6 linked regions of the Homo sapiens genome follow. The protein of the gene in region 6 interacts with the protein of the main gene of each other region in a pairwise test. Each region holds a gene or a part of one and is shown on either strand. Other genes may lie near its edges. The genes, in order: LRRK2, RPS6KC1, MUC7, TNFRSF1A, MAGEA11 and PRDX3.

Region 1 (3,500 bases), on a different chromosome or scaffold from region 6:
TAAGGTGATTCTGTATTTTAACTATTGTGAACAGGGCTGCAATAAACATGGGAGTTCAGATATATCTTTGATATACTGATGTTCTTTTTTTGGATATATACCCAGCGATGAGATTACTGGATCATATGAAAATTCTCTTTTTAGTTTTTTAAGATACCTCCATACTGTGTTTCATCATGGCTGTGCTACTTTATATTCCCATCAGCAGTGTACCACCATTCCCCTTTTTCTGCATCCTTACCAGCATTTGTTATTTTTTGTCTTTTTGATAATAGCCATTCTGCCTGTGGTGAGATAATATCTCATTATGGTTTTGATTTGCCTCTCCCTAATGATTAGTGAAGTTTAGGATTTTTTTTTCATGTACCTGTTAGCCATTTGTCTGTCTTCTTTTGAGAAATGTCTATTTGGATCTTTTGTCCATTTAAAAATAAGACTTTTTTTTTTTTTTTTTTTTTTGCTAATTGAGTTTTTTTAGTTCCTTATGTATTCTGGTTGTTAATCTTTTGTTGAATGGATATTTTGCAAATATTTTCTCCCTTTCTTTATGTTGTCTCTTCACTTTGTTAATTATTTTCTTTGTTGTGCAGAAGCTTTTTAGCTTGATATAATCCCATTTGCCTATTTTTGTTGTAATTGCCTGTGCTTTTGAGGTCCTACCCCAAAAATCATTGCACAGACCAATGTCCTGTAGCATTTCCCCAGTGTTTTCTTCTAGTAGTTGCATATTTTCAGGTCTGAGATGTAAGTCTTTAATCCATTTTGAAATGATTTGTGTATATGGTGAAAGCTGTGGATCTAGTTTCCTTCTTTTGCACAGCCAATATTTGATTCTCACTGAAATCTCACTGCCCTCCTGGAAATATTACCGGATGTTTTACTGTCATAGCGAAGTGAGAGTAAGCTGCTCACTGAGGATCAAAGAGCTTGTGACAGACCTAAGACTCAAGTCTTCTCACACCTTCAAAATCTCTTTCCATCATACAATCTACTAGCTGCTGAATTCGCAAGCTTTTTGTGCAAGCTAGTAAAAAGCAAAATGGTTTGATACAAATACTGTGGCCATGCTAGGTACAATGACATCAATTTAAATTATCATTGGTCTTAACAAGGGGATGTAGAAAGGGGTCTCCTACTGACATTTTAATACTCACTTAAAAGTAGTATTTTTCCTTCAGATTTCTTTATATTATTAGTATAATTACTGTAAGTATCCTTTACTGCTTTATATGTTGAATTAGCTGGAAGTGCCAAAAGAAAAACTCTTAATGATAAATTTAAGGTATTAAGGTAAATTTCTCCTTCATTTAATTTAATAGTAATTCTTAATTACTATTTAAAATAAAGATTAAGGTTTGTTTCTAGATGCCATTTAACATGATATTCCAGACTGCCAGTTTTATTTTCAAAGTTTGTTTCATATTTTATTAATGTTTCTTCATAAATGACAGTCTTTAGAAAATTGACGGTTAAGCTAGGTGCTTTATATTTTTCTTTTCCTGCCTATCTTTTCACTGTGCTCCTAAATTTTACATCTCTTTATTCTCAAGGGTTCAACCTTTGAAGAAGGGGAGCAAAATAAATGAAAGTGGCTAAAATTTTTTCTTTAACCCCTAGACTCTTTCCTGTTGTGCATTAATTACATGCTTGAGTTTTTAGAATAATTATAATAAAGTAAAACTACCAATTTAATTGTATTGTAACTGTGCAAGATGGGAACCTTCTCTCTTAGAGAGATAAGCTTTTAATTGAATAGATTAATGGATCAATTGTTACCTCTGCTTTGCTGCCAGAGATTCTATTTAATCACAGAAGTTCCATGTAGTGCTGGAGAGCTCAGTTGCCTGAATCTTTTTGCAAAGCGTTTACTGATACTGTTGCTTCACCAACCAAAACAAACAGGTTTTTTCCTTGAGTCAGCTTTGTAGGTACAGAGATGAGTTTGGCATCCTATGTGACTTTTTTTTTTTTTTTTTTTTTTTTTTTTACCACCAGAAGCTGTTCAGAATGTTATTTTCTTAAATAGTTCGGAAAAAAGTCTTGATGTATTCTATGAAAGCACAAAAATAGTCAGTTTCTATGACAGCTGGATTGTCAACGTCTGTTCAGCTTACGTGGAGGAGGATGTCCTACTTGAGTAGTATAGGTAGAAATAGCTATCAGAAATTGCCGCCTTTGAAAGCAATTTGAAATTATGTAAAAGGAAGTAATGACAAAATAAAGCAATTTATGTTTAATCTGGAAAAGATCCAAAAGTAATATTGTAAAGAGATCTTGAGTAATCATTTTTATCTTCCTAAAATAGCCGTTGTTTACTCCCGTAAGCGAGTAAGAAACTTGTGCCATTATTCCTTATTGGGTGCATATAGATTTCTCACCTTGTCATTCAACTCCTTGCAATATTCAACTTTACTTATGCATCCAGCCTTATCCCAAAATAGCCTCTTCCCTGTAGCAGCTTCCTTATCATGTAGCAGCCTACTCTCCTCACCGCTCATCCGTTCTTATACAATCTGGCTTAAGCTCTACCTCTTCATATTATATTCTTCTCTGAGTAATTTCAACTCACACTGAGTCTTACTTTCAGTATTTCTATTATATTGGTATTTATTACACATCACACTTAGATACTTTTCCATTAGTCTCTAGAGGGTACATATATGCACTTTCTCTTTTTTTTTTTTTTTTTGACCATGTCAAGTATAGTTCTATAGTATAATAGAATGAATTGGAGATCCTTTACATTTAGAGAGGGAGGAGTCTACAGTAGGAAGAATAGGTTAATTTTCATCTCCGGTTTGAAATCAGGACTTTCAATTTTTTTTTCAGAGGTAAAGAGCAACTTAGTCAAGTTGGCATCTTGTAAACAGACTGAGTGAAGATATACTTAAAATGCATCTATAATTTCATATTTTATTTCGAAATGTGAAAGAGCCTACTAGGGGTGTCTGTGATCTCTAGACCTTATCAATTCATTCTAGAGAAATCTGGAGGGAGCCATTGAGGAGTTCTACCTCCTGTCTATTTTATAGAGCTCTTTCTCTTTTTCTCCTATCAGATGTAGATTCAATTGCTAAAAATGCCACGTTTCTTGCCTCTATTATTCTAGCTTCATTACTTGGGGAGCAGCCATTCTGATAACTTACATTTTGCTACTAAAATCTCCAACTTCACCTAATCCTTCATTATAAGCCACTTCATTTTTTCCTATAATTAAAATTTTAAATATGTGGAGGAAATTCTGTCAGGTAGATATGACTTAAAACCTACTAAGGGCCAGGTGCAGAGGCTCACGCCTGTAATCCCAGCACTTTGAGAGGCCAAGTCAGGAGGATTGCTTGAGCCCAGGAGCTTGAGACCAGCCTGGGCAACAGAGCGAGACCCCTGTCTTCACAAAAAAAAAAAAAAAAAAATTAGCTGGGTGTGGTGGCACATACCTGTAGTCCCAGCTACTTGGGAGGCTGAAGTGGGTGGATCACCTAAGGACAGGAGTTCTAGGC
Region 2 (4,034 bases), on a different chromosome or scaffold from region 6:
TACATCAATATTCATAATGGCATTATTCACAACAGCCAAAATGTAGAAACAATCCAAATGTCTACTGACAGATGAATGGCTAAACAAAATGTGGTAATACATATGATGGAATATTATTCAGCCTTAAAAGGGAGGAAATTCTGATAAATGCTACAGCATGGACGAACCTTGAAAACTTTTTGCTAAGTGAAATAAGGACAAAAAACAAATATTGTATGATTCTGCTTATATGAAGTACTTAGAACAGTCACAGTCAAATTCATAGAGACAGAAAGTGGAATAGTGGTTGCTAGGAGCTGGAGTGTGGAATGGGGAGGAGTTATTGTTTAGTGGGTACAGAGTTTCCATTTGAGGTGCCGAAAAAGTCCTGGAGATGGATAGTGGTGATGTCGCACAAAAATGTACTTAATGCCACTACTGAAGTGTATATTTTAAAACGGATAAAATGGTGAATTTTATGTTATGTATATTTTACGATAAAAAAATCAAATGAGAAACACTCATGGCAACTTCTTTTATGATTTTGACCCCATATTCCACTCTTCTGCTTAAACAAACAAAATATAAAAAAAAAACAACCACAAAAATCAGTACCATTCACAGAAGTACAGCTTAAAATATGTACACACCATAAAATAAAAACAGACTCTGGTTCATCACCCCAAAGCTATTTATCCTGTGTTTATTACTAAAATAATTAATGTCCATTCTAATTATGAATGATGTATTTACATTAGGCACAAGCTCCAACCAAACATATAGAGAGAAAAGGGGAGAAACTGAAGCAATGGAATTGTGTCAACAGACTGACATGGCAACCATCTGTTGACATTAATGTCCTTTGAATCCAAGAGACTCAAATCATGTGGTAGGGCAGGGATCTTCACCTTAGTTGTGAAGTCCTACTTTCATGTCACAGGGCACTTCTGGAAGGAAGTTCTGTAATGGCCAGCTCTAAGTACTTGCAGATTTCCTACTAGTCCTACACAGGAAGTCATTCTTGTGTCTCACCTGCATAAGTTCCTGTTATGAGGCCAGGGGACTAGTGAGTTGAAATCTAGTTCCAGGGAGTGATGTCATTTTGACTGAACTATGATCCTGGTGACCTGCTCCCCAACCTGGTGTTGTTGCAGCCTTTCAGCTGGGGTTTGGATTATAAGGGGGCCAAAAAGGAAAAAGGGAAATAGAATAATAGAAAAAGGAAAAATGCTTGCACATTTCCTTTGTTTCACTAGAGCATTTTCTGTTCCATTTAATTTGATGAGAGGACCTGGTCGATGGCAGATGGAAGCTGTACAGATGCTCCTGGAGTGGGGTTGGGCTCTCACACAGATCTCAAAAATGCAAAGAAGATTAGAACATATCAAAAATTTCAATTATTTCTGGTGGTTTCTAACTTGGAAATAGTGACTTCTTCTTTGGCTAACGTTTAAAAAAAAACAGATGTTAACACTTTTAAAACATTTGTAAATTTTTGCAACAATGCATAACTACAGGAGCTACCTTAGCAACAAAAAGAAGTAACAAATACAAATGTTTGGAGATGTGTGAATACTTACATTCTTTCTAAATCACGTCAAATAGATTAGTTCAAATCTGAAAATCTCATCACCATAAGTAACAAACTAGGACTGCCATTCAATTCCATTTAGATGAGATCCTTTGCTTCTTAGTATACCAAGCCAAAAAGTAAAACAAAGTCAAGCATGAGAAGCAATGGTAGAAACTGATAATATTTCACAAGGAAAGGAACAGACGCATTTCTTCAAGGAAAAAAAGGGGGGAGGGTTATTAAATGAAGAAGAGATCTAATGTTTCACCATGTTTATTTGATATCATGATTTCTTAGTCCTTACACAAAGGGAAATAAGCACTCCCTTCCCTTTTTTGTTGCATGTGTGTTAGCAGGAGTCGGAAGAACAGAATATGAGGGAACAAGCAGAGGGTGCAGAAAATAGAAAGATGGGGAAAGAAAGATGCTGTTGAAGACACAGAGTGAGTGTTTATATGAACCCTTCTCTAAATAAGCAGTATCAACAAAGAGTACAAAGCTGACAACATGGAGTGTCTTCTTACAGAAATAATCTGGGACCACATTCAACATACATTATACAGCATCAGGGTACAGGTTTTCCGTCAGAAATTATGTGTATATTCTTTTTTCTCGCTTTTAAGTTTCATTGATGACATTGTTCATATACTTTTAGTGTATTATTAAGCAAATATTAATTTAATCATATAAACCAATCCTGGTCAGCAAAAAGCACTGTTAGCTGCCATGTAAAGGTCCTTCTGTCAAGTAAAACTTCATTCTACACTTCTAGCTTCCTATCAGAGGAACTTCTTGAAGGAACTCTTTCAGTTGGCTTTACAACTCATCTGCAACACCAAATGTGGATTAAATTCAGATCACACCTTGGTTGTGTATATATGTATATAACAGCCCCTGGCACAATTAGCTAATATCTTGTAATTGTAAACGAATTGTTCTCTTTTAGCCATTTCCCCCCCATTTCCTATAACGGTCTTTATCCAAATGCTTTGGTGCTCCATAAGTAACTGTGAGTCAGAGGTGCCTCAGTGCTGGAGATGCCTGTCACAGAGAAGATCAGAATGTGTGAAGATAACCCTGCATTACGTTCATCTCATCAGTTCTGCCCAATCCACAGGGGTAAAAAATGGATGAGATTTGATATCTTCAACACCAGCAACTCCAGCACCAAGTCGTTCCAGAGGATTGAACTGCAAGAGCTAAAAAAAGACGGACTTAGTGAGTAACAGGAATCCAACTGGCAAATCAAAGGAAAACCAATATTTGAAAAGAAACAACTTCTAAATTCAACCCTGGTAACAAGCAGTCTTGATTAATAGCCAAGTGACCATTTTTCTTGAAAGGGAGCTATGTCTAATACCATTCTAGCTGTGGGGTGTGAGAGACACCTGAACTGAGTTTATGGCTTTTCAACTGATGGGAAACATGGCCTTGAGTAACTTACTTTGTTTCCCTCATCCTCATGTAATATAATAGGATAGTTATACCTATCAATTTCCTACCCCAAAAGTACACCATGACATTAATTAGATATTGCACTAGATTCTGAGATAGCCAGTTACTTCCTTCATGATTAGAAAATTTGGGAAGCACAGTAAATCTTTCGACCCCTAATCAACTATGTATGTATTGAGACTAAACTTTACCTAAAGTGTGAATAAGCTGATTAGTATTCCAAAATCACTAGTCTTTGGCATAGTTGACACAAATGAAATAATTTAATATAATGAATGAAACAAGTTTTGGTTTCTTCAGAAATAGGAATCATGTGTAAAATAAGTAAAAAAAAATTTTGTGGTTTAATAATGTCAAATTTTTGTGTTAACAACTTTACTGAAGGATAATTTATATAAATTCATCCCTTATAAGTGTACAATTTGATGACTTTTAGTAAATTTAAAGAGTTGTGCAACTAGCATCACAATCCAGTTTTAGAACATTTTTTTTTTTTTTTTTTTTGAGACGGAGTTTCGCTCTGTCGCCCAGGCTGGAGTGCAGTGGCGCGATCTCGACTCACTGCAAGCTCCGCCTCCCGGGTTCACGTCATTCTCCTGCCTCAGCCTCCCGTGTAGCTGGGACTACAGGCGCGCGCCACCATGCCCGGCTAATTTTTGTATTTTTAGTAGAGACAGGGTTTCACCGTGTTAGCCAGGATGGTCTCGATCTCCTGACCTCGTGATCCGCCCGTCTCGGCCTCCCAAAGTGCTGGGATTACAGGCGTGAGCCACCGCACCCGGCCTTTTAGAACATTTTGATTACCCTAAAAAGTTTCCTCATGCCATCTACAGTTAATCCCCACCCCCATCCCCAGCCCTCGGCAACCACTGACCTGCCTTTTGTCTCTATAAAGTTGCCCTTTCTGAACATTTCATATAAGTAAAATAATAAAATATGTAGTCTTTTGACGCTGCCTTCTTTCACTTATCATTATGTTTCTGAGATTCATCCACACTGTAGCAGGTATCAACAGGCCATTCCTTTT
Region 3 (4,273 bases), on a different chromosome or scaffold from region 6:
TGTTCATTTCTTTCTTTTACCACATATACAATCCAGCAGAAGATATAGTAGACTCAATCACTAAAATATATCCTAAACCCACTCTTATCTTTTAATTGCTGAAATTTAGTGCAAGTCACCATCATCTTTTATCTGGACCACTGCCATAGCTTCCTGACTAGTCTCCTTATCTCAGCTTTTGTTACCTGCTACCTATCTTCTCCTGAGAATCCTGTCATGTAAATCCCCTGGGAGTGCTTTGATCATGCTGAGACTTCCTGACAGATTTGAAACCATATTCCACACCAAGACCTAAAGGCCTTACAAACCTGGGTTTTCATCTGTGTCAGTTCTCATCACACTCACTATAAAGTTTGTGCTCTATAGATATTGGATAAATGAAACAAATTATTTCCTTATGCTCTATCTACCTACCTACCTACCTACCTACCTAGTCTATCTACCTATCTATCTAGTCTATCTACCTATCTGTATATATTTTTAAGACAGGGTCTCATTTTGTCACCCAGGCTGTGGCATAGTGGTATGATTACGGCTTGCTGCAGCCTTGACCTCCCAGGCTTAAGATCCCAACCTCAGCCTCCGAGTAGTTGGGATTACAGGCACGCACCACCACACCTGGCTAATTAAATTTTGTTGTTGTTGTTGTTGTGGAGATACTGTCTCATTATGTTACTCAGGCTAGTCTTGAACTTCTCTGAGCTCAAGTGATCCTCCCTCCTAGGCTTCCCATAGTGCTGGGATTAGAGGTGTGAGCCAGTGCACCGGCCAATTGTCCATATTTATAGGTTTCCTGGAAATAAAAGATGTCAAGCTTCTTGGAAATAGGGGTTGCCTATTATGCTTTAAAAGTCTCAGGTAGGTACACTAAATGTTTGTTATTGATAGTTAAGGAAAAAACTTATTTGGGTGAATACTTACCGAGAAGCAAGCACTCAGTGCACAGATGCACACAAACAGCGGCAGAGTTTTCATTCTTTCTGATGTCTCCTGGGAAAAGCAGAAATGTGGCGTACTATTAGTTATGATATTATGGGAGAGGAATGCGTTTTGGTAAATAACTTATTTTTATTAGAAAGTACAGGCAAAAAGAGACCAATGGTTTCTGAAAATTATGTATACATTTTCATTCCATAGGGGTGATGCAAAATTGCTTCAGGCCTAAAATGCATTCTTTTAGAGAGGAAGCAATGGAGGAGGCTCAAGAATTATTCTAACTAGTTTGCAAAATGAGCATTTTCTATTGATATTAAAGATTGGCTAGGAAAGGCAGGATCTTAGGAAGTTTAGCAATAAGAAAAGGAAATAATTTTCTTCTTATTTCTTTTCTAATTCAGGAAGCTCCCCTCTGTGGGGAACCATCATATAAATGACCTGATACTACACAGTTTTGCAAAGACTCCTGATGTTAGAGGAAAATGCTCTTTGTCGCTGTGCTATAAGGCTGTCACTTGGAACAAAGAACCAGGTCAAATGGACTCTTCCTCCAATTTCATTCTACTGAAGATTTTGCCATTTGATAATCCTTTTTCTTGTACCTTTTTTTTTTTTTTGAGACAGAGTCTCGCTCTGTTGTCCAGGCTGGAGTGAAGTGGCACACGCATGGCTCACTGCAGCCTGCACCCCCCAGACTCAAGCGATCCTCTCACTTTGGCCACCCTAGTAGCTTGGACTACAGTCATGCACCACCGCTCCTGGCTATTGCTATTATTATTTTTATTTTTTGTAGAGACACGGTTTCACTGTGTTGCCCAGGCTGGTCCTGAACTCCTGGGCTCAAGCAATCCACCCTCATCGGCCTCCCAAAATTCTGGGATTACGGGTGTGAGCCACCGTGTCTGGCCGATACCCTTTTTCTAAGTCCCAAAATGACAGGAATTATTCTTTATTCATTGTTATGTCATCATGCCTAGTACATAGTGCAGACTTAATACATATTTTTTTTGAATAACTACTTGCAAAAGAGAATTGTATTTTGGCTATAGGTTGTAGAAGGGAAGAGTGAGAGAAGAATGTGGTCTTTTGTTTTTCTCATTTTGGTTATATATGTAATGTGTACATGTCAGCTTATCAGCTTTAGAAAACAAAATAAAGGTTAAATCATATAGACAGATTACATATTAGGGCAGGTAATTAGTGTGCATGTCAATGTGGTGGGCTGTGAGATTAGACACACTTTACAATACAATCCCATGGTTTATAAAATGGGTGTTAGAGTCAGTCAGAGACTTGATTTAAGCTCTGCCCACTTACTGTGTGACTCTGCCACTCACTGCATGACTTTGAGTGAGTTGCAATCTTACATCATAAGAATGTCCTGAGGATTGACTGGAATAATATATATATTACAAATCGTACTGAGAATAATGTCTTATCCATAATAAAGTCTCAGTGGTATTATTATAGTACTAGCACACTAAGAAGAAAACAATCTGACCCAATTGAAAAACGAAATGGTTACTTATTATTCTTCAGGTTCCTAATATATTGTCAGATTTGTTTTTAAATTTCAAGACCAAAAAACATTCCTACCAATCATATTGTGTTCTAATAACATATGAATTGAGTGTTACCACACTGTTTGGCAGTTCATAAGAAGAGAGGAGAATAACTGTATTAGAACAACTATTGCTATTACTTAATATATGTATATTACTTGAAAGCTGTTTAGTTTATATTAGAACCTATCTAAAGTATCCACATACCTGGTGCAGTGTGAATCTTTCTTCTTAGGGTGTTCAATCCAGTTGCTTGCTTTTAGCCAATCCTTTGAGGATGGTAACTAGAAGCAAAAGAAGAGAAAGCACAAGAGAATTTTCAGGTTTTATAACACTCCAGTCGAGCTTTTTGGAAATAGGAAATCTATTAGATTTAAGATAAGGTCATTTGTGTCAAGGAATTTACTTTTAAAGAAAAGAATAGTTGTGGTTTGCTGAGATTGACAGTAGTTCTTTGTGCATCAATTTCTTCCTGATGAGCACAGTGACGATCAGAGGTTCTCAATGAGTAACTTATGTGCTTGATGAGTAGTGGAACAGTAATTGAAGGCGCTTACGGAGAAACAAACAACCATGGCCCAGGTCCTCCCAACAGGAACAGATCATCCACTCTTTCCTGTTGGGCTCTCAAAGTAAGCAGAGTGATTGCCTTCTGACAGTTAATGTGATGGAACACCATATTTCCTTGTCAATAAGACAAGTTAATAAAGGACAGAGGATTTAAAAAAAATACTGTGGTGCCAAGTACTGGTGCAGGGCAGTATTTAAAGCCAAAAAATCAACACTGAATTTTTAAATACAAGTAATTAAAAACAATTTTTGACTTTTTGTCTTGAAAAATATTCAAACATATAGAAAAGTGAGGAGGGTAGTAGAACTATATACTCATTCCCTGGTTTTCATAATTCTTAACATTTTGCTATATATCTTAGTTGTTTTGCTGAAGTATCTTAAGGTAAACTACAGAAATTGTAACAGCTACTCTCTATTTCAGCATTTCTCTCTAAAAAGCCTTTCTTTTATAACACAACACCATCAACCTATAACAATATTAATAATTCAAACATATAATCTAAAATTGAGTTTATACTCAAATTTTGGCAAAAATATTTTTAGTCATTTTGTTCCTACCAGGACTCAACTAAGGGCCGTGTGTTGCAGTGACTTGTTATGTCTCTAGTTTCTTTTATCCCAGAAAATTTTCTCCCATTTCCCCCATGGTAGTGATATTTTGATAGCTAGACTAGTCATTTTATAAATATTTATTTTTAAAAAGAAACTTAATAACTTAAAAAAGAACTTAAGAATCATTTTAATAGAGATCTTCAAAATTAGATATTTCTACTATGTAAAATCGTTAATCTGGAATACAGTTTTGAAGGTGTGATTCCACTTCTAGCTAGTCAGTTTGTTCTTTTGCACATACAGTCTCTGAGGGCTTACATTCTTTGGGTTTGATTCCTTGCTTCTCCACTTAGTAGCCATGTAATTTTTGACAGGTTAGCTAACTTCTTTGAGCCTCAGTTTTTCTATCTGCTAATTAGGTGTGACATCTACTTTACAAAGTTGTCAGACTGAAAGTAGATAAGTTAAAAGTTCTGACATGGTTCTTTTGAATGGAACACCCTCAGCTATTATGCTGCCATTAGTGGAAAGTTAGGGACAGTTTTTGAGATAGCAATGAGTTAGTAAATATGGGCTATAATATTAATTTCTTTTCATCTTTTTTTGCTAGCAACTAGTGATATGCATTTACAATATACTTGTTATAGTTA
Region 4 (4,118 bases), on a different chromosome or scaffold from region 6:
ACTTTTCTATGAGGCTTTCCCTCCGCCATCCCATCTGACACATCTCTTGTTCCTTAATTCCTTCAGCAAATAGTTAAGGGGCACAGTTAATGTGACAGGTCCCGTATGGGTGCTAGGGATGCTGAGGTGGATAATACACAGCTCGTGCTCTCAAGAGCTCTCACTTGAGTCAAAGACAGTCAGTTGTAGGCACTGAGATCTATACAGGGAGTGCTGCAGTTGCACAGTGAAGGACACTGAAGCAGCGTGGGGAAGCTCCTGAATTTTCTGGAGCTGAGCGCAGGAGCTGAGACCTGCTAAGCAAGGAAAGGCAGTGGACTAAGGCTCACCTCCTTCCCCAGTTCCTCCTCCTCCCAACTGGTGCTCCAGGACACCACATCACAATGCATTTGTGGATATTTTCCTCGGGATTGCTCTGAAATCATTTTTCACTGTAAGCCATCTTGGTTACTAGGCTGTAAGCTCTTTGAGAGCAGCAAAATCCTGTTTGCTTTGCCACAGTCTCTCCTGTATCATTCTTCCCTACTCCCCTACCCCACTTCTCTCTCTCTCTCTCTCTCTCTCTCACACACACACACACACACACACACACACACACACTGTGAGCTCTGCATTGCCCACTGAATGGTGAGAAATTCAGAAGGATGTTGCATTCCCTTTGTTTTCCCTTTCCTCCAGCTCCAGGCCAGGCTTCTGTCCCTTAGGAGACATAATCCCACCTGGGCTGAAGCACCCCAGGACGCAGGCACTTCCCTTTACCTGTTCAGGCTACCTTTACCCTCTGTTTTCCCAACACAGGTAGCCACCCAGTAATTACTACTAGTCACAGCAATATAAAAACTTTATTGAGTGCTTTCTATTTGCTACAACCTATTCCCCTGATGGACTGTCAAAGCTGTGGGCAGGGATTTTGTTCTCTGCTGTAATCCCAGCACCTATCACAGTGTCTAGCCCAGAGCGCACACTTAATAAATCAAATGAACACTTAACATGTATCAGTCTATTCAATCTTCAAAACAACAGTATGAGGTCAAGACTGTGACACCCATTTTGGAGATAAAGAAACGAAGGCATGGAAGGTTAGGTTATATAAGCTGCTCTTGTTCATGCAGGAGGTATGTGAGGGAGCCAGGGGCCGCCCCCAAACAGAAAACAGAAGCAGGATGTCAGGGCAGCTGGCTGGTGGGGAGACCGTGGGGGAAGGACAGTGGGAAGAAGGGAAGAGCGGGTGGGACTAAGGAGGCAGGAGGAGGCAGAAGAAGAAGAGTGAGACCCTGACCAGAGACGTGCTGCCTGGGGACCTGGGGCCGGGACCAGAGCGGAGCAGAGAGGAGGGGAAGGAGGATTAGCGAGAAAAGATTTCAAAAAAAGAGGCTCTGAGAAGTCTGAGGAGAGTCTGGGGAGATTGCTGGAAGAAAGGAATGGTAGGAGAGGAAGAGTATAAGGCACTAAAGAGAGGGGAGGTAGGCGCAGCCTTCAGAGGCCGGGCAGGGCAGGGAAAATCTGCCTGACTAGATGGGCCCAGGACATCTGAACAGGATGATTCCCGGACCAAGACGTGGAGGACGATCAAGGATACATTGAAACAAGGCTGAGGCCAGAGAAAGGGACATTTTCCAGTGACGAAAACAACTTTCTACCAACTTCCCCAAACTGAACTGTAGAATAAGAAACCAAGGGATTGTTGTTTAGGTCTGTGAGAAGCAGCGGGGAGGGGAAGCTGGAGGACAGGCCCAGGGACACTGACCAGGTGGGGGTAGGACTAGCTCCCTGGGAAGGCTCAGTCCCACAGCGGCTACCTGCCTAGCAGCAGGCAAAAGGGTAAAGAATGTCCCCAGGTGAGAGGCCGGGGCTTGGCCAGGGCACTGGGGACACTGTCCACTGGGTTGCCCTGCCCCATCCAGTGTCCCAGCCCATTCTCAAATACCTCCCACCATGAGCATCCCAAACCCACCACACCAGCCCATCCCCACTCCTCAACTCACTCCCCCACTTCACCAGCCGCCAAAATCCTGCCCTACAGGGTGTGCTCCACCAAGTTCCACAGGCAGCCTCGCCTCCCCACGGCCCAACACCCTCCAGGCCAGCCAGCTGACCGGAGGGACAGAATTCAGAACCGTCTGGACTCCCCGAGCACTAATCTTCCTACTCCCACTCCCTTCTTTTCCCCGCCAAATCTGCCCCACCCTGGGCCTATCTCCTGCCCACATTCCCTTGGCCGCCCACAAACTTCCACCGCTGTCAGGGGCCAGGGCTTCCTTTTACTCTCTCCCTTTCAAACTTCTCCCATTCCCCTGCCTCAGCGCAGCCCCTACTCCAAAAGGCGGATGAATGGGGAACCCCACACTGGCAGTGGCTGAGGTTAGGACCTGCAGGCCTGAGGCTGGCGCCAGGACCAGGCCCGGGCAGGAGAGGCTCGGCCCCCTCCCGGAGAGGGCCCACGCCAGCCGGAAGGTGCCTCGCCCACCAGCCCACTCTTCCCTTTGTCCCTGGTCTCACCAGTGGCAGCAGCAGGTCAGGCACGGTGGAGAGGCCCATGCCAGACAGCTATGGCCTCTCACTCCCCCATTTGGGCTCAGGGCAGTGTGGCAGCGGCAGTGCTGGGGCTTCCCGGGACTCGGTCTGTCCAGGACGTCCCAAGTGCCTTGGGGTGACAGTTGAGGGTTGAGACTCGGGCATAGAGATCACGGCCTGGTCCCAGTGATCTTGAACCCCAAAGGCCAGAACTGGAGCCTCAGTCCAGAGAATTCTGAGAAAATTAAAGCAGAGAGGAGGGGAGAGAAGGTGGGAGGGGAAGAGTGAGGCAGTGTTGCAACAGCGGGACAGGAAGAGCTGGAGGAGGAGGCCACAGGAGGCGGGAGGAGGAGGCCCAACGTTCTTTAACTCTTTGTAGTCCAGTCACAAGCACAGGAGTCCCAGATCTGGCTGCCTTGTGCCCCCAACCCACCAATCCGACCACTCCCAACCAAACACCAAGGGGCAATAAGCCCCTTGCCCACATCACTAGCCTTTCCCAGATGGATCACAGCAGTGAAAAGATCCAGAGTCTGGGAGTCAAATTCTCTGGGTTCCAATTCAGAATGCTTAGCTTTTTAGCTAAGAATGTGTCTTGGACACATAAATGAACTTCTCAGACACATAACTGAAACTGTCTGGATCTGTTTTCCAATTTGCAGAGTGGAGATAACCTGTCTCCTGGGGTTCCTGTAAGGATTTGTTCAGATGGGAGAGATATAGATAAGCGTCCGACACATGATAGGTACTCCATGTCCCTTAGTAATCCTCCCCTTTACTCCAGAGTTCTTCACTAGCCTCCTAGTCTCCCTCTTTCTTGGGAATTTACTGATCCAATCCAAAACTCAAAGTAAGTCCCAACCCTCGTTTTCTGCCCTGACTGGGTGCCTGCCATTCCTCACCCCAGGTCTCATCCAGTCTCTGCCTGGCCAGGTCCCCCCACCCTGCCCCACTGTTGATCCTGGCTCTGCCACCAATCATGCGACATCAGGCAACTCCTCTCCTAAGCCTCTGTTGGTTCCTTGTTTATTAAACAGGGGTAACAATGTCTGCCCACCTACATGGGGAAAGTGATGCCATGAGAATCAATGAGACGTATCCACGAAGCTGCCGTGGAAATAAAGATACCTCCATCAGGTGTTCCTAGCATATTCCCAGTGCCCTTTTCCTAAATATTCCAATACATCAATTATAACTCACCTTACAGATCATCGACTACAACCCCCTAGGTTTTTTTATTTCTTCGTTTGCTTGTTTTTCATTTTTGTTTTTGTTTTGAGGGTCCGCTCCGTTTCCCAGGCTGGAGTGCAGTGGTACCATCGCAGCTCACTGCAGCCTCGACCTCCCAGGTTCAAGTAATCCTCCCACCTCAGCCTCCCAAGCAGCTGGGACTATAGGTGCATACCACCACGCCTGGGTAATTTTTGTATTTTTTGTAGAGACAGGGTCTCACCATGTTACACAGGCAGGTCTTGAACTCCTGGGCCCAAATGATCTGCCCACCTCAGCCTCCTAAAGTGCTAGGATTACAGGTGTGAGCCACCGTGCCCACCCAACTGCCCGGTTTTATAGAGGAGAAAACTGAGGTCCAGAAACCCAATGTG
Region 5 (2,709 bases), on a different chromosome or scaffold from region 6:
CTTTTGGCCACTTGAGAGACATTATGCAGTACTGAGAAAACAAATGAATTAAGGGACAGAGGTGTACTTCAGGCTGCAAAGAGTGAGAATAGAATGGGCTCTAGATGAATTCAGGCCAACCTTGTGGTTTACCAGTGATATGATCTTGGGAAAGTTACCAAGCACCATGAGACTCAGGTTCATCCAGAAAATGGGTTTGATAGACCATTTTTTTAGGACTGTTGTAATGTATAAAATGTATTAAAACACCTGGGATGATGCCTGGCATGTACTGGATATTTAATGATTGACAGCTATTTCTAGTATTACTGTGACCCCAGGTGCTACCACTCTCTACTTTGGAATATTTTTTATTGTCCAGGACATCTCAGAGAATCTGCAACTCAGTAGGAAACTGCATTTCCTTGGTGAATATGTATGTGGGGGGAGGGGGGTGTACATGTGTGTATGGGTGTGTACTTTCATAGAACAACAGATTAATATGGATAAGAAGACAAGAATTAATGACCTTCTCCTTTTATTTCTCTGTTTCACAACACCAGTTCAGCTTTATTGTTAAGTTCTTACATTCTCCAAGAAAATACCTATTGCAAATCACAGCAAGATGGAAGATTTCCCAAAATGTTTTACAAAATGGCAAACACTTGCACTTGAAATGGATAAGCAAAACAACATGTGTGGTCAGTATCATCCATACACTTAGATGTTGAAGCTAACTAAAACTTTTATTACAGGAACAATATTTGAAAATTACCAAAGGGAAACAAAAAGAAATCTCCAAGTCACCCGATGGAAGAGAAACCTAAAGGCAGTATACAATGTGTTCCCTTCCATTCACTGTGCCTTCTACTACTGAGAACACTGACTTCTCTCATCAAACACAGAGGGAAGAATGGGCCTGATTTCACACAGGACAGGGAAACTGCTGGGTGTGGCCCTGAAGCATGCATTGGCCCATTTCCCTGCCCGCTGGCCCTGGTTGCATCTCATGCTCAGACTCCCTCTCCCTCCTCTCTCAAAGCATCTTCATACAGGGATGGGTAAGAAGTGGGATCCCTCCCATTGGCATTGGCTATGTACTCAAGAACTTTCATCTTGCTGGTCTCAGCGTGGGCCCTTGGACCCCACAGGAACTCATAGCATGCAGGATCAGTGCCGGGCACCTGCCGGTACACCAGGTACTTTTCCTGCACCCAATTTTGGGTAAGGAGCCTCTTGGGCTCCCCAAAGAGGAAGTGCTCCCTTCCAGCATACACCCCCATAATGCTCAGGACTTCCCACATAACCTCTTCAGGGATGCAGTTCCCCTCCATGAAGATTACACCCAGGACTATTATCAGGAGGCCAGACTTGGGCATGCTCTGCTCATTACACTGTATGCCATCATAAGAGAGGTTGAGGGAGGTGACAAGGACATAGGAGTGGCTAGTGGGGTCCACTTCCTTCACATCAATGCCAAAGAGCAGTTGCATGCATACAGAGGCTTCCCTAAATATCTCAGGAAAGTAGTCCTCATAATTTTTGATGACACTCCCCAGCATTTCTGCCTTTGTGATCAGCCCCTTGACTCGATACTTGCGGAGCAATAAATGAACCAAATCAATTATCTTGTCATGTAGTATATCTTGGGAAAAGGACTCAGGGTCTATCAGGTCAGGCGAGGTACTTGGCCCCTCCTTTTCTTGGCTGCCAGAGCCCTCATCAGATAGGCTCCCAAAGATGGCATCCATGGCAGTGGGAGAGAAGGACTCTTCCTGAGGACTCTGGGGAGGACTTGGTGACTCAGCAGCAGGCAACTCCTCTAGAGTGCCCACATTCAGAGTAGAGGAGAAGAAGGCAGCCTCCTGCTCCTCAGCTTGGAGAGCCTGTGCACCCACCAGGCCCAGGTCTTCTTCTTGGGCCTGAAGGCCTTCCTCAGGCTTGCAGTGCTGACTTCTTTGCTCAAGAGGCATGATGACTCTGGTTAGGTCAGCAGGCCGAACTGTGGGAAATATCTGGGTGATGGGGCCCCACAGCCTGGGGAGAGAGGGAGCGTGAGAACAGACTCAGATGAGATATGAACCATGGAGAATCTAACAAAGGCCTACTTACACTTGTTCTCCTCCAGTGATCCTCTGGGTTCTCCTGGGACTCCTGTCCTCCAGGTTGGCCTGTTCTCTAAAAACCTGAAAAAGGAAGTGAGAAGGCTGCTCAAGATGCAGCTGGACATCAGAGCAGGAGGCTCCAGGACTGAGGTAGGGCAGGTGAGGTTGCAAGCTGGGGGTCCCTTTCTGTACTGGGGCAGGTGGGGCCATTTGTAGATTAAGGGTGAACATCTCATCTTGACTACTGGCACTGCCTAGGCTTCCTGTGTTCTGAGATCTGAAGACATTGCTTGAGACCAAGGCCTCACTGCTCAGTTTTTGGAGCTTCTAGAAGAGGAATCATGGGGCCATCAGGCTGCAGACTGCAAGCACCCATCCTGGCACCCCAGCACTGTCAGAAAGGTGGGCCAAACTCTGTGAGTTTCTCACTTTTTTGGAGTGGATGGTCCCCTCTGTGCTCAGGGCCCTCACCTTTCTCCTGCCAGGGCCTGGAAGACACAGCTCTCCTGACCTGAGAAACTCTCAGATCAATAGCTCTTTCCTGATATGAAAGAGGACATGTGGGGATACACATCTGGCCACATGTACACAGGGCTACCCAGGAAGGACAGCAAGAGATGGTGAC
Region 6 (3,500 bases):
TAAAATTCAAAAAATTAGCCGTGGTGGTGGGCGCCCTGTAGTCCCAGCTACTCAGGAGGCTGAGGCAGGACAATGGCGTGAACCCAGGAGGCGGAGCTTGCAGTGAGCTGAGAGAGCGCCACTGCACTCCAGCCTGGGCGAGAGCAAGACTCCGTCTCAAAAAAAAAAAAAAAGGCCTGCCTGTCTCTGATAATTGGTTCCTGGCTCCCCACCCCACCCCCTCTACCCCACAGCAGCTTCACCCATTTGCATATCATCTGCACGCTTGCTTCAAGAGTGGGCTCCCTTTTGTGGATATTTCAGGTCAATAGCTCTCGAGGCTGAGAGAACATGGACCTCACTGCTTTTGGGGAAAAAAACCTACCGTAGGAGAATCCGGTGTCCAGTTCGCTGGGCAGACTTCTCCATGTGTTTCTACATACTGGAACGCCTTCACCAAGCGGAGGGTTTCTTCCACGCTTCGGCCCACTGGGAGATCGTTGACGCTCAAATGCTTGATGACTCCATTGGGGTCAATTATGAAGAGACCTCTGCATGATCATTTATCCTCATCAGTGCCTCAACAGTACCAGAACTAGAACAGTCTAACTTCTTCCCTTTTAGGTCTTTAATTCTCCTTTTAATAAAATATTTATTAAGCGTAATCATATGCTTAAAGGTGGGGTTTTCACTGTTGTGCAAAAAACTTATCATCTCTTACTGATGACAGATGCTTTAACAAAGGCAGTACTGGACCAGGTCACCATAAAACATGCAGTATGGTCACACTTACAAGTTCACATAGTGCCCTGAATGTTACACAGTATCGGAAAGTCACTGAACTAGAGAGAGCAAAGACTATTAGTGACTTGGCAAGCATTCTTTGAGCTGCTGTATCACATCTTGGCAAGAAACTTATAGGCAAATGGGAAGAGACAGAGGTGTATTTTATCTAGGTTCAACAACTGTTTATTATGAATGAATTATTGGGTAAATGGGGGGAAATCCCACGGGAAAAATCTTCATAGAAAGAATGTACAGGCTCTAAGTCTATGCAAAACAGAAAACCATGCCCATCACTTTTAATCATGTAGCAGCATGTAATGAGATGAACCACGCTACCACAGTGGTCTGTGTTTATCTTCTGTGTTGGTGTTACTGTGACAGATGCAGATATGTTTAGCCTAGAAGTTTTTTTGGTTGTTTGGTTTAAATATAGGGTCTCACTGTATTGCCCACGCTGGAGTGCAGTGCTCTTCTCAGGTGTGATCACAGCAGGCTGCAGCCTCGAACTTCTGGCTCAACTGATCCTCCCACCTCAGACTCCCAAGTAGCGTGACTATAGGTGTGTGTCACTGTGTCCGGTTATTTAACCTACAGGTTTTAACAGTCTGTCTTAAAAGGATGTGGAAATTTCAGGTATCAATCACTCATGGAAAAGGCAGGTTAGAGAAAACTCAGGATAAAAGATGCTTCTCCCTCCCTGGGTCAGGCACTGGGAGCCTGGGGTTTGAGGTGAAACTGTTCCCAGAGGGTGCAGCCAGCTGAAGTCCACCAATAGAAGGTGAGGCAGAGCTGGGACAGAGCAGGGCCCATAGACTCCCAAAAGTCTTTATCTTATAAGCCAGACTCAGCTTCTCTCTCTTGTTAATCTCAATATTAAAACGGGTACAGAGGTAACTGCAAAATTAGTGAGTTCTCATAGGGAAAGGGACCGTAGGAGAAAAATAGCCAGTACCCTTTCTCTGGCCATTGACAATTCTGAAAGACCTAGGCATTCGTTTGATAATCTCTTTAAAGTTTAAAAAAAAAAAAATGGTCTGCCAGGTGCGGTGGCTCATGCCTGTAATCCCAGCACTTTTGAGAGGCCGAGGCAGGCAGATCACGAAGTCAAGAGTTTTGAGACCAGCCTGGCCAACACGATGAAACCCCATCTCTACTAAGAATACAAAAATTGGCCGGGCGTGGTGGCGTGTGCCTGTAATCCCAGCTACTCGGGAGGCTGAGGCAGGAGAACTGCTTGAACCCGGGAGGTGGAGGTTGCAGTGAGCCGAGATCACGCCACTGCACTCCAGCCTGGGCGATAAAGCAAGACACCGTCTCGAAAAGAAAAGAAAAAAAAAAAAAGAGAGGAAAAAAAGGCCCAAACTCTAAGATGCCACTCAGCGCTAAAACCCAAGGTGTAACCCAAGAAAGAGCAGGCCAGAGGTCACCTACAAGACAGGCAGGTGAGCTGGCTTTGTTTGTTTGTTTGTTTGTTTGCTTTTGAGACAGAGTCTTGCTCTGTCGCCCAGGCTGGAGTGCAGTGGTGCGATCTCAGCTCACTGCAAGCTCCACCTCCCAGGTTCACGCCATTCTCCTGCCTCAGCCTCCCGAGTAGCTGGGACTACAGGCGCCCACCACCACGCCCAGCTAATTTTTTGTATTTTTAGTAGAGACGGGGTTTCACCATGTTGACCAGGATGGTCTCGATCTCTTGACCTCGTGATCCACCTGCCTCGGCCTCCCAAAGTGCTGGCATTACAGGCCTGAGCCACCGCGCCCGGCCAGGTGAGCTGGCTTTAAGCTGACCAGCCCCCAGCAAAACTGTGAGGCACAGCACATCAAAGGGGGATCCCCTCTCTTCCTTCCTGGAGGTCAAGTTCTGCCCTATCCCTCCTTCACTCCTATTCTCAGCAGACTTCAAGATGCCAATTCTAAGACCCAAGTTCTCATCCCTCCCAGGAAGGTTATGTTTGAATGTGGGGCTGCTGAGGACTGAAAGCTTTTCACACTCAAAGGAATAAAGGTTTAATAAGGGACTGAATACAGATAGAAATGATGTTCTGGGGCAGAAATCCTAACAACTGCTGCCAGTAACTATGCTAAAAACTCTAGCTGTGTCACTATTTAATCCTCACACCCACCTGTGACGTACCACCTCATTTTAGTTATGGGAAAACTGGGGCTCAACAAGGTTAAATCAAATCAGTTGCCCAAAGTCACACAGCTATTAAGTAGCTGAGTTAAAAAAAAGAAAAACTCAAACCAAGGATTGTTTGGTTCCAGGGCTGAAGATGGTCACCATTCCAAGAGACTACCTCTTACCCTGCTAGTCCCCCCTTCTGCAGAGTCTGATGGCTTCAATGTCAGGTGTGTGTCCCCATGGAAGTGGCTCCCACATAGTTAGGGAGTATGGAGCAGTGTGGCCTCAAGACGCAGCCAGCCTTCTTCAGAAAGAGACCCAAGGTGGTGGAGGGGACATGCATGTCTCAGCATTTCTGAGAGACCGCCAACCCTTGCAGGAGGCATTTCATCAGTGTTTATTAAAGACTAAAATTAAGGATTGATTATTATAAATTTTAATTCTTTTTAATATAATAGGGATGAGGTCTCACTATGTTGCCCAGGCTGGTCTTGAACTTCTGAACTCAAGTGATCTTCCCGCCTTGGCCTCCCAAAGTGCTACGATTACAGGCATGAGCCACCATGCCCAGCCAGGATCTTCTGGTTTTAAAAATGCTTTACCAAGGTCTACATAA

What was found.
Region 1: the proteins of PRDX3 (region 6) and LRRK2 interact in binary tests that used the Homo sapiens proteins (3 or more experiments, as listed by UniProt).
Region 2: the proteins of PRDX3 (region 6) and RPS6KC1 interact in a two-hybrid assay, tested with the Homo sapiens proteins (one large-scale study listed by BioGRID and IntAct).
Region 3: the proteins of PRDX3 (region 6) and MUC7 interact in a two-hybrid assay, tested with the Homo sapiens proteins (one study listed by IntAct).
Region 4: the proteins of PRDX3 (region 6) and TNFRSF1A interact in a two-hybrid assay, tested with the Homo sapiens proteins (one large-scale study listed by BioGRID and IntAct).
Region 5: the proteins of PRDX3 (region 6) and MAGEA11 interact in a two-hybrid assay, tested with the Homo sapiens proteins (one large-scale study listed by BioGRID and IntAct).

What each region holds. Positions count from the first base shown.
Region 1 is NC_000012.12:40,227,997-40,231,496, forward strand, and holds part of LRRK2 (leucine-rich repeat serine/threonine-protein kinase 2), read left to right. Parts: intron 1-3,500. UniProt on the Homo sapiens protein: Serine/threonine-protein kinase which phosphorylates a broad range of proteins involved in multiple processes such as neuronal plasticity, innate immunity, autophagy, and vesicle trafficking.
Region 2 is NC_000001.11:213,271,241-213,275,274, reverse strand, and holds the end of RPS6KC1 (ribosomal protein S6 kinase delta-1), read right to left. Parts: intron 2,752-4,034; coding exon 2,641-2,751; 3' UTR 501-2,640; downstream 1-500. UniProt on the Homo sapiens protein: May be involved in transmitting sphingosine-1 phosphate (SPP)-mediated signaling into the cell. Plays a role in the recruitment of PRDX3 to early endosomes.
Region 3 is NC_000004.12:70,470,724-70,474,996, reverse strand, and holds the start of MUC7 (mucin-7 precursor), read right to left. Parts: upstream 2,801-4,273; 5' UTR 2,706-2,800; intron 991-2,705; 5' UTR 976-990; coding exon 922-975; intron 1-921. UniProt on the Homo sapiens protein: May function in a protective capacity by promoting the clearance of bacteria in the oral cavity and aiding in mastication, speech, and swallowing. Binds P.aeruginosa pili.
Region 4 is NC_000012.12:6,339,277-6,343,394, forward strand, and holds the start of TNFRSF1A (tumor necrosis factor receptor superfamily member 1A isoform 1 precursor), read right to left. Parts: upstream 2,801-4,118; 5' UTR 2,539-2,800; coding exon 2,500-2,538; intron 1-2,499.
Region 5 is NC_000023.11:149,715,060-149,717,768, reverse strand, and holds the end of MAGEA11 (melanoma-associated antigen 11), read right to left. Parts: intron 2,166-2,709; coding exon 2,092-2,165; intron 2,017-2,091; coding exon 993-2,016; 3' UTR 501-992; downstream 1-500. UniProt on the Homo sapiens protein: Acts as androgen receptor coregulator that increases androgen receptor activity by modulating the receptors interdomain interaction. May play a role in embryonal development and tumor transformation or aspects of tumor progression.
Region 6 is NC_000010.11:119,168,813-119,172,312, forward strand, and holds part of PRDX3 (thioredoxin-dependent peroxide reductase, mitochondrial isoform a precursor), read right to left. Parts: intron 531-3,500; coding exon 365-530; intron 1-364. UniProt on the Homo sapiens protein: Thiol-specific peroxidase that catalyzes the reduction of hydrogen peroxide and organic hydroperoxides to water and alcohols, respectively. Plays a role in cell protection against oxidative stress by detoxifying peroxides.